3 separate regions of the Homo sapiens genome follow, and all the other regions are linked to region 1. The links come from fine-mapping of genetic effects on gene expression. A gene starts in region 1. Each other region holds a variant in brackets. All regions are shown on one strand. Distances are between the middles of the regions.

Region 1 (2,753 bases):
GCTCCCCCAAACCTGCTCTGGTCCCTGGAATAAGGGGTTAAACCGGTCGGCTGACTTCTCCTGCTCCTCAAAGTCCAGACGCTTCAAGGTGGAGAGACGGGGAAACTGAGGCCAGAACGGGGTAGCTAGTTGTTCGCAGTCGCGCTAGGGGACCCGGTCCTCCGTATTCCAAGGGGGGCACCGTGGGCCATTAGGGAGCGACGGGGAAAGTGGAAAGGAGACGCGCTTCGTGCCCACCGCCCCGAGTTAGAGCCGAACCAGCCCGGGACCGAGCGAGACGGAGCGGCTGCGGGCCGCGTCTCGGGTCCCCGCGCCACGTTTAGTGCCGCTGCGGCCTCCCGGCCAGTCCCCCCTACTCTCTAAGCCTCAGTTTCCCGGTCTAGGAAAAGGGCTTCGAATGTTGCGGGTCTGGCACTGCTGGGGCAAAGGCAGAACAATCTGGAGGGCGGCCGGGATTGGAAGTCCGGGAAAGACTTCGGCCATCCAACATTCCCTGGGGGGACGGGGCTCAGGACGCGGAGGGTCGCTCCGCGGGGGAAGGGGACGACCGGCTGTCTTGGCCGGAGGGGAACCGGACGGGATGACCTCATCCGCGGCTCCAGCCTGGAATGCGGCGGTCGGGGAGGGGGGCAGGGTGCCTGTCCATCTCCCCGGGCCCCCCACCCCCCACTTCCCGCTCTCCGCGTGGGCCTCGGCGGAGGGGAGACATTCCGCCGCGTCGCCCGCTGCCCGCCCCGGCCCTTCCTTCCCCCGCGCAGGAAGGCGCGGAGACAGCCCCCGCTCTGCCCCTCGGCTCGCCCCCTCCTCGCGCATTTTGGCCGCTCAGCCGTGTCCGATCCTCTGCCCCCTCCACCAGCCTGGAACGGGACACGAAGCCCGAAAGCTCGGAGTTTCCTCGCGCGGCTCCGCGGCCGCGCCCGGCCTTCCTGTGGGCACCCGGGGGCGCCTCTCCCGGGCGGGTCCCGTCCCCGTTCCGGCCCCGGGAGCCTAGTAGGGTGCAGAGTCCCCGCGGGCGCCGGGACCCGCCGGCCTCCACGGCCTCCGCCCCGAGGACCCGCGCGCCCGGGCTGTTACCTGGCTCCGCGAGCCCCGGGGGCGCGGGACGAGGGCGGACTCGTCGTCTGCAGCGGCGGCGGCCGCGCGTCCCGGCTGGCAGCCCGGGAGAGTCGCTGGGCCGGTCTGCGCCGCCCTGGCCGCGGGCTCCGCGGGCTGGATCCGGGGGCGGGGGCGGGGTGTGGGCGCTCCCGCCTCCCGCCCGTCTCCTCCCGCCCGCGGGCGGGGCCCGGCCCCCTCCCCGGCCCCCTCCCCGGCACCGTCCTCGCGGCCGCCGAGAGCTGGCAGGGACGCGGCTGGGGGGCCAGGCCAGGCCTCTGCTCGCCACCCCGGACAAGGCCAGCCGGGGAACGTGCGGGCTGCCCCGGGGAGGCGACTCCGGTCCCCGGCCGCCAACCCCTCTTCCACCGGTTCCCCTCGTGGCCTTGCTTGGGGCGTCCAGGCCTGATGAACTCTCCTCCCTCCTGGGCCCTCCAGCCGCGCCCTGCGGGAGTTCGGGGAACCGGGAAGCTCGATCTGAGGCCTTGAATGCCTGGGCCTTTAAACCTTGATGTTTACAGGCATGACATGCCCACTCCTTTGCTCCCCATTCTCATTCCCTTCCATCCGGTACAGGCCCCGCGGTGCCCAGGAGGAAGACAGCCATACTGGGGCGACTGGTAGAGTGGGGTAGAGTGGCCGTCAAGACCGGGACCCTGGAGCCGGACAGCCTGGGCTCCTGTCCTGCCTCAGTCACTACTTACCTTTCTCTGCCTCAGTTTCCTGATCTGAAAGTGGGATAGATAATAGCAGCATCAGATGTTGTGTGAAGTGTTTCCTGCTCCAAGAGCACCTAGGAGGCTTGCTCGGCAGGTAAATGAAGTCGCATCTCAGAGACTTTACAGACCCTCCCCCCACCCCGCCCACCTCCATGGAGGGCAGGGAATCAGCCATACCCGGGACCCTGTGCCATCCTCAAGGAGGGGAGATAGATCTCTGGCCCCTGCCTCCCGTTGTTGTGCCCTCCTTTGACTACTCCCATCTGACTATAGAGTCCTCGGGCTGTCAGGGCACAGAGAGGTCCCTAATACTTCCTGCAGGGCCTGGGGGCTCAGGAAATCTTCCTAGAGGAGATGATACCTGAGTTAAGTCTCTCTCTCTCTCTTTTTTTTTTTTTTTTTTTTTTTTTTTTTTTTTTTTTTTTTTTTGAGACGGAGTCTCTCTCTGTTGCTCAGGCTGGAGTGCCATGGCATGATCTCAGCTCACTGCAGCTTCCACCTCCCGGGTTCAAGCGATTCTCCCTCCTAAGCCTCCGGACTAGCTGGGATTACAGGCACCCACCCACGCCCGGCTAATTTTTGTATTTTTTAGTAGAGAGGGGGCTTCACCATGTTGGCCAGGCTGGTCTTGAACTCCTTACCTCAGGTGATCCGCCTGCCTTGGCCTCCTCAAGTGCTAGGATTATGGGTGTGAGCCACTGCATGGTTGTGAGTTAAGTCTTAAAGGACGTGTAGGCAGAGGGAAGGGCAGTGGAAATGCACAGTGCACAGCTGGCAAGGGACAGCACAGCAAAGGCTGGGAGTGGAGGACCCTGCAGCGGAGGCAAACCCGGCTGAAGGAGACTGGCTGAGCGCTGTTGTGGCCGGGGATGAGGAGCTGTATTTACCCGCAGGTGGAGGAGACAAGGTCTTTACTGTTCACCCAGGGGCTAGGCCTCTTCC
Region 2 (2,753 bases), 650 kb before region 1:
ACATCTCCTCCTCCAGGAAGCCCTCCCTGATCCCTAGGACTTGTTAGGGACCCCCACCCCTGTGTGTAATGGGTTGTATTTCCTTGCTGTCTCTCCACCAGACAGGGAGAGGCTGAGTCAGCTCTGGGTGCTTGAGGCCACCCATCTCAAGACCTGGCAGGGAGCAGGCACTGGGGAAGGGTGGATGGTCAGAGTCTCTGACGCCATCACCCAGCTTGTCACCAAGCCGGGTTCCAAGCCGAAACGTAGTTCAGTACCTCCTGGCCCTGTCTCTAATTCTTCCTCCTCTCCAGCTGCTTCCTTGGGCCTGTTGGCAGAGACAGTACAGATGCTAGGCGAATGGGAAGAGAGCAGAGGGGATCCCATCCACGTGACTTTGGGCCCAAAGGTGGGGTGTGGGAAACAGGGAAAGGAGCACTGGATTGGGAGTCAAGCTTGGGTTTAAGTCGCATCTCTGTTTTCTCAGGCTGTGTGACCTGGGGTGAGCCACTCCATCTCTCTGGGTCTCCACTTTCCCATCTAAAGGATCGGAACAATACCTGCCTCGCAGGGTTTTGGTGGAATCAAGTGGTATACACTGTAGAGGTCAGTGAGCAGCTGGGAGGTTAGAATTGCTGTCTGTCCAGGAGGGGTCAGGCCTGTAGCCAGCACTGGGGTCTCGCTCTGATTTAGCATCTCCCAGCTGGCTGGGGTCACACAGGGAACTGCAGGAAAGGCCCTTAGAGGCCATCAGGTCCTGCCTCCTCCCTTTACCCAAGGGGAGGTAGAGACCCAGAGAGGGGCAGCACTTGCCTGAAGTCACACAATAGGTGTGAATGAATAGCTGCAAAGGCCCAGGACTGAAACCTGGTCCCTTCACACCGTCACCTCCCTGGTTCGCCCAACCCTGAGGTAATGCCCAGAGAGGACAATAGAGTAGTCCAGGCTCATACAGCCAGCATGGGGTAGAATTCAGGCCTGAGAGTTCAAGACCAACCTGGGCAAGATGGCTAGACTCCATCTCCAAAAAATAAAAAGATTAGCCGGGTGCAGTGGTGCACACCTATAGCCCCAGCTACTCAGGAGGCTGAGGCAGGAGGAACCATTGAGCCCAGGAATTCAAGGCGGCAGTGAGCTGTGATCCCGCCACTGCACTCCCTGGGTGACAAAGCAAGACCC[C/T]GCCTCTTAAAAAAAAAATTAGCCGGGTGTGGTGGTGGGCGCCTGTAGTCCCAGCTACTGGGGAGGCTGAGGCAGGAGAATGGCGTGAACCCGGAGATGGAGCTTGCAGTGAGCTGAGATCGCGCCACTGCACTCCAGCCTGGGTGACAGAGCGAGACTCTGTCTCAAAAAAAAAAAAAAAAAAAAAAAAAAAAAAAAAAAGATGGCCAAGCAAGGTGGCTCATGCCTGTAATCCCAGCACTTTGGGAGGCCGAGGTGGGCGGATCATGAGGTCAGGAGACTGAGACCATCATGGCTAACACAGTGAAACCCTGTCTGTACTAAAAATACAAAAAATTAGCTGGGCCTGGTGGCACACACCTGTAGTCCCAACTACTCAGGAGGCTGAGGCAGGAGAATCGCTTAGAACCTGGGAGGCAGAGGTTGCAGTGAGCCGAGATTACGCGACTGCACTCCAGCCTGGGTGACAGAGCAAGACTCCATCTCAAAAATAATAATAATAATAATAATAGAATTCAGGCCTGAGGCCACATGGAGCCACACACCTCCTCCCTGTGTGGCCCTGGCAGGGCGACCTCCCTGGGCCCTGTTTCCCTAGCCCTGTGAAGATGAAGCTGGACTTGCCAGTTTCCAAGGCCACCCCAGCTCTGATTCTCCAGGATTTGTGTTGGGCCCGCTAGGGATACGATTTGCAAGTTACAGTTAAGTATCCAGGCCCCCTTACCAGCCGTTTGGGGAGCTGGCACGTGCAGTGATGCTTGGCCACCTGAGCTACACAGAAAGACCCAATGGGAGAAGGGAAGCCTCTCCCCACGCAAGTTAATCAACTGCCCTTTGGGTGTTGCGGCTGATACAGAACCTCAGAGGCACAGTCTGGCCTCATGCACAAGTCATTTTTCCTGAGTCCTGGATTCCTTGCTAAGTGGGAATAATCACAATAATCTTGGTGTGTAAAATATAAAGGCTTAGGCAAGGCCAGGCGTGGTGGCTCACGCCTGTAATCCCAGCACTTTGGGAGGCCAAGGTGGGCAGATCATCTGAGGCCAGGAGTTCAAGAACGGCCTGGCCAACATGGTGAAATCCTGTCTCTACTAAAGAAAAAAAAAAATGCAAAAATTAGCCAGGTGTGGTGGCGCACACCTATAGTCCCAGCTACTTGGGAGGCTGAGGCAGAAGAATTGCATGAACCCGGGAGGTGGAGGTTTCAGTGAGCTGAGAACAAGCCACTGGACTCCAGCCTGGGCAACAGAGCGAGACTCCATCAAAAAAAAAAAAAAAAAAAAAGGAGGCATAGGCAAGAAAGATCACCTCATCTCACCATCATCCCACTATCCACAAGCAACAGAGACATCACTAACCACACACAGCACCAATTCCCAGTGAGGCAGGCCACAGCCCCTGAGTCTTTCTCAGCACAGAACTGTTTTCTCCTGAGCTTGGACACAGCCTAGAATCCTCAACACTGCCTCCAGACCAGGCCTGAGAGATGGAACCATCAGCCATTCCCTATCCTTGATAATAGCGGAAGCTGGCTGTGATTGTAAATACCCTCAGGTGCTAGGAAGGTTTTGAACCTGCTCTTCCCCCACTCCTCC
Region 3 (2,753 bases), 83 kb after region 1:
TGGGCATGGTGGCGGGCACCTGTAGTCCCAGCTACTCGGGAGGCTGAGAGAGGAGAATCGCTTGAACCCAGGAGGCGGAGGTTGCAGTGAGCTGAGATTGTGCCACTGCACTCCAGCCTGGGCGGCAGAGCGAGACTCCGTCCCTCCGTCAAAAAAAAAAAAAAAAATTGCTGAATACTGTGGGGCTGGGTGATTGCTGCCACCTGAGCCCCAGAACCCTTCCCCACCTTCCCCTCCTGGGGCACCCTCTCCCTCCAGACACCTCCACTAGCCTGTGACTGAAGAGTCGACACCTGGCAAAACAGGGGGCTCTGTACCCGCCTCAGTTCCTGACCTGGATGGACACTGATTTGGGTTGCCAGATTCATTAAACAAATAAATGAAAAACCACTACATCCAGTTAAACTTGACTTTCTCATAAATAATGAGGAAATTTTTAGTATAAGTATGTCCCAAATATTGCATGGTTCTCTCCCTGTCCCCAGGACCCCCTGGGCATCAGGTGTTAGAGTGGTCCTGGCCCTAGGGCTCCCTTGGCTCCAGGAAGAAGGCAGATCGGGAGGTCCCTCTCTAGAGGCAGTGCCTGGTGCAGGAGCTGGGCACACAGCGGGGCTCAACCTCCCTTCCCAGGTCCCCATCTGCTTCATTAGGAAAACCAAGAGCAGAAAACACAGAGCCTTAATTATCAGTAGCTAATCAGCCTCTGAGCCTTAATTAAATTCTTCTGGGCCCTAGGGCTCTGTGTATGAGTGATTCCAGGGGAGCCAGGGGGTCCCCCAGGCTCTCACACCACTTCACTGCTGGCGACTCACCTCTGCCTAAGCAGTTTGCCTCTGGGGTGGAGAACTGCACGCTGGAGCCTGACTCCCTGGGTTTACACGGCAGCCCTGCCACCTCCTGGCTTTGTGACCTTGACTGAGGTCACCTCACCTCTCTGTGCCTCAGTTTCCTAATCTGTGAAATGGGTGATAACAGCCCCTACTCAAAGAGTGGTCGTGAACACAGAAGAAAGAATGAAATGAGGTCATCTCTCCAAGTCCTTGGAATGAGACCTGGCACGAAGTCAACACTAGAAAGTGTTAGTGATCTGAGGCCGGGCGCGGTGGCTCATATCTGTAATCCCAGCACTTTGGGAGGCCGAGGCAGGTGAATCACCTGAGGTCAGGAGTTTGAGACCAGCCTGGCCAACAAATAGTTAAACCCTGTCTCTACTAAAAAATACAAAAATTAGTTGGGCGTGGTGGCGCA[C/T]GTCTGTAGTTCCAGCTATTTGGGAAGCTGAGGCTGGAGAATCGCTTGAACCTGGGAGGCGGAGGTTGCAGTGAGCAGAGATGGTGCCACTGCACTTGAGCCTGGGCAACAGAGCAAGACTCTGTCTCTTAAAAAAAAAAAAGTGTTAGTGATTTGTATTGGACACAGCCTGACCTTTGTTTCCCAGCCACATCTTTCCTATGCACACTCAGGCCCCGTCAACCTAGGCCCACCTCTGTGGCCCAGGAGAGCAGGTGCCATGTTCGGCAGCCCCTCCCAAGCCACATGGAGTGAGGTAGAGACCTTTCTCAGGGGAAAGGGGCATGGTGGCTGGGTGGGTAAAACAACACCTGTCCCCTTTAACTGGAATTCAGCTGGACTTGAGTCTGATCAGTGACCTCACCACTCATAATTAACTATGTGACTTCGGGCCTCTGTTTTCTTATCTATAGAATGGGTGCAATAATGCCAGGTTGTAGCAAGACTCTAGTGAGATTCAAAATAAAGGGCTTTTGAGCCATGCTGGTTGGGGGTGAAGGGTGGCCTGGCTGTCCCTTTTCCCCACAACTGCCACCAGGCTCACTCTGCCCCTTGGCCTTCCTCTCTCTCAGAGGCTGGTACAGTTCTGGTTTGCCACTGGGGGTGCTGGCTTCTGCATCAATCGCAAACTGGCTTTGAAGATGGCTCCGTGGGCCAGGTAAGCAGAGACCCAGGGGTGGGCAGGAAGGCGGGGAGGGGGTGGCAGCTGGGGTACAGGAGGGGCCTTTGCAGCAGGAAGGGCTTTGAGAGTGAGCTCAGGAGAAGCTGCTCCTCATTTGCGTGTGTCACAGAGCGGCAGTTGGTGGTGAACAAGCCACCTGCCACCTGCCCTCAGGGGCTGCACGGCTGAGCGCATGACGTGCCACTCACAGGCAAGTCATGTCATCTCCAAGAGCCCCAGTCCCCCCGTCGGCACATGGACCTGATAATGCAGTGGCCAATGGTGTAGTAAGGGTTAAATGAGAAAATGTCTGGGCTGGCCCTGGTAGGTGCTATTTACCGCCCTTTTCTGACTGGTCAATGCCGTAGGGGAGGTGAAGGCCAAATCTAAGGGTCTTCAGAGGAGGGAGAAGGGCCTTCTGGGTGAGGGAAGAAGGGAAGGCTTCCAGGAAGAGGTGGTATTTGAGCTGGGACAGTCCACTATACACTGGGCCATCTAAGGGAGATGATATTACTCCTAATAGCACAGTGGGTGTACATCCTGTGATATTATTCATAATATCATCTAAGGGAGATGATATTACTCCTAATATTATGAGGGGATCTCAGGGGTAGTGGAGGCCGCAGTGTGGGTGGGGGTGGGACACAGGTGTTCTAGAAGTGGCGAGGCCTGGCTTCTGGAGGTCTTTCCGGGCTATTATTATTATTAACAGCACCATCAGCAGCCACTCCCTTGTATTGAGGACTGACTCTGAGCCAGCTCTGTGCTCCATCAAGAGGATCACAACACCTGGGGGAGAAGGTGG

Which allele goes with the higher level. Positions count from the first base shown, and alleles are read on the strand shown. Sizes are in standard deviations (SD) of each study's normalised expression. Not every link is listed here.
In carriers of allele T in region 2, the expression in cerebellum of the gene that starts at base 1,183 in region 1 tends to be lower than with C alone (large effect, 0.90 SD a copy in GTEx).

The links. PIP is the estimated chance that this variant, and not a neighbour inherited with it, causes the effect.
Region 2: its variant is the best candidate, but not a certain one, in a credible set for the expression of CDC42EP1 in cerebellum (GTEx, PIP 0.76).
Region 3: its variant is the best candidate, but not a certain one, in a credible set for the expression of CDC42EP1 in whole blood (INTERVAL, PIP 0.52).

The regions. Positions count from the first base shown.
Region 1 is chr22:37,558,910-37,561,662 of GRCh38, reverse strand. It overlaps CDC42EP1 (CDC42 effector protein 1), which reads right to left and starts at 1,183. Exons shown (of 3, transcript NM_152243.3): 1 at 1,075-1,183. RefSeq lists an enhancer at 1-547.
Region 2 is chr22:38,206,030-38,208,782 of GRCh38, reverse strand. The region is part of intron 1 of MAFF (MAF bZIP transcription factor F); the gene reads right to left. Among named protein-coding and RNA genes, the nearest start is that of MAFF, 5.4 kb to the right of the region's middle. RefSeq lists a cis regulatory region at 1,201-1,218 and an enhancer at 1,139-1,283. The variant C/T (reference allele first, on the strand shown) is at 1,159.
Region 3 is chr22:37,476,088-37,478,840 of GRCh38, reverse strand. MFNG (MFNG O-fucosylpeptide 3-beta-N-acetylglucosaminyltransferase) reads left to right here. Exons shown (of 8, transcript NM_002405.4): 5 at 1,860-1,945. Among named protein-coding and RNA genes, the nearest start is that of MFNG, 8.9 kb to the left of the region's middle. The variant C/T (reference allele first, on the strand shown) is at 1,249.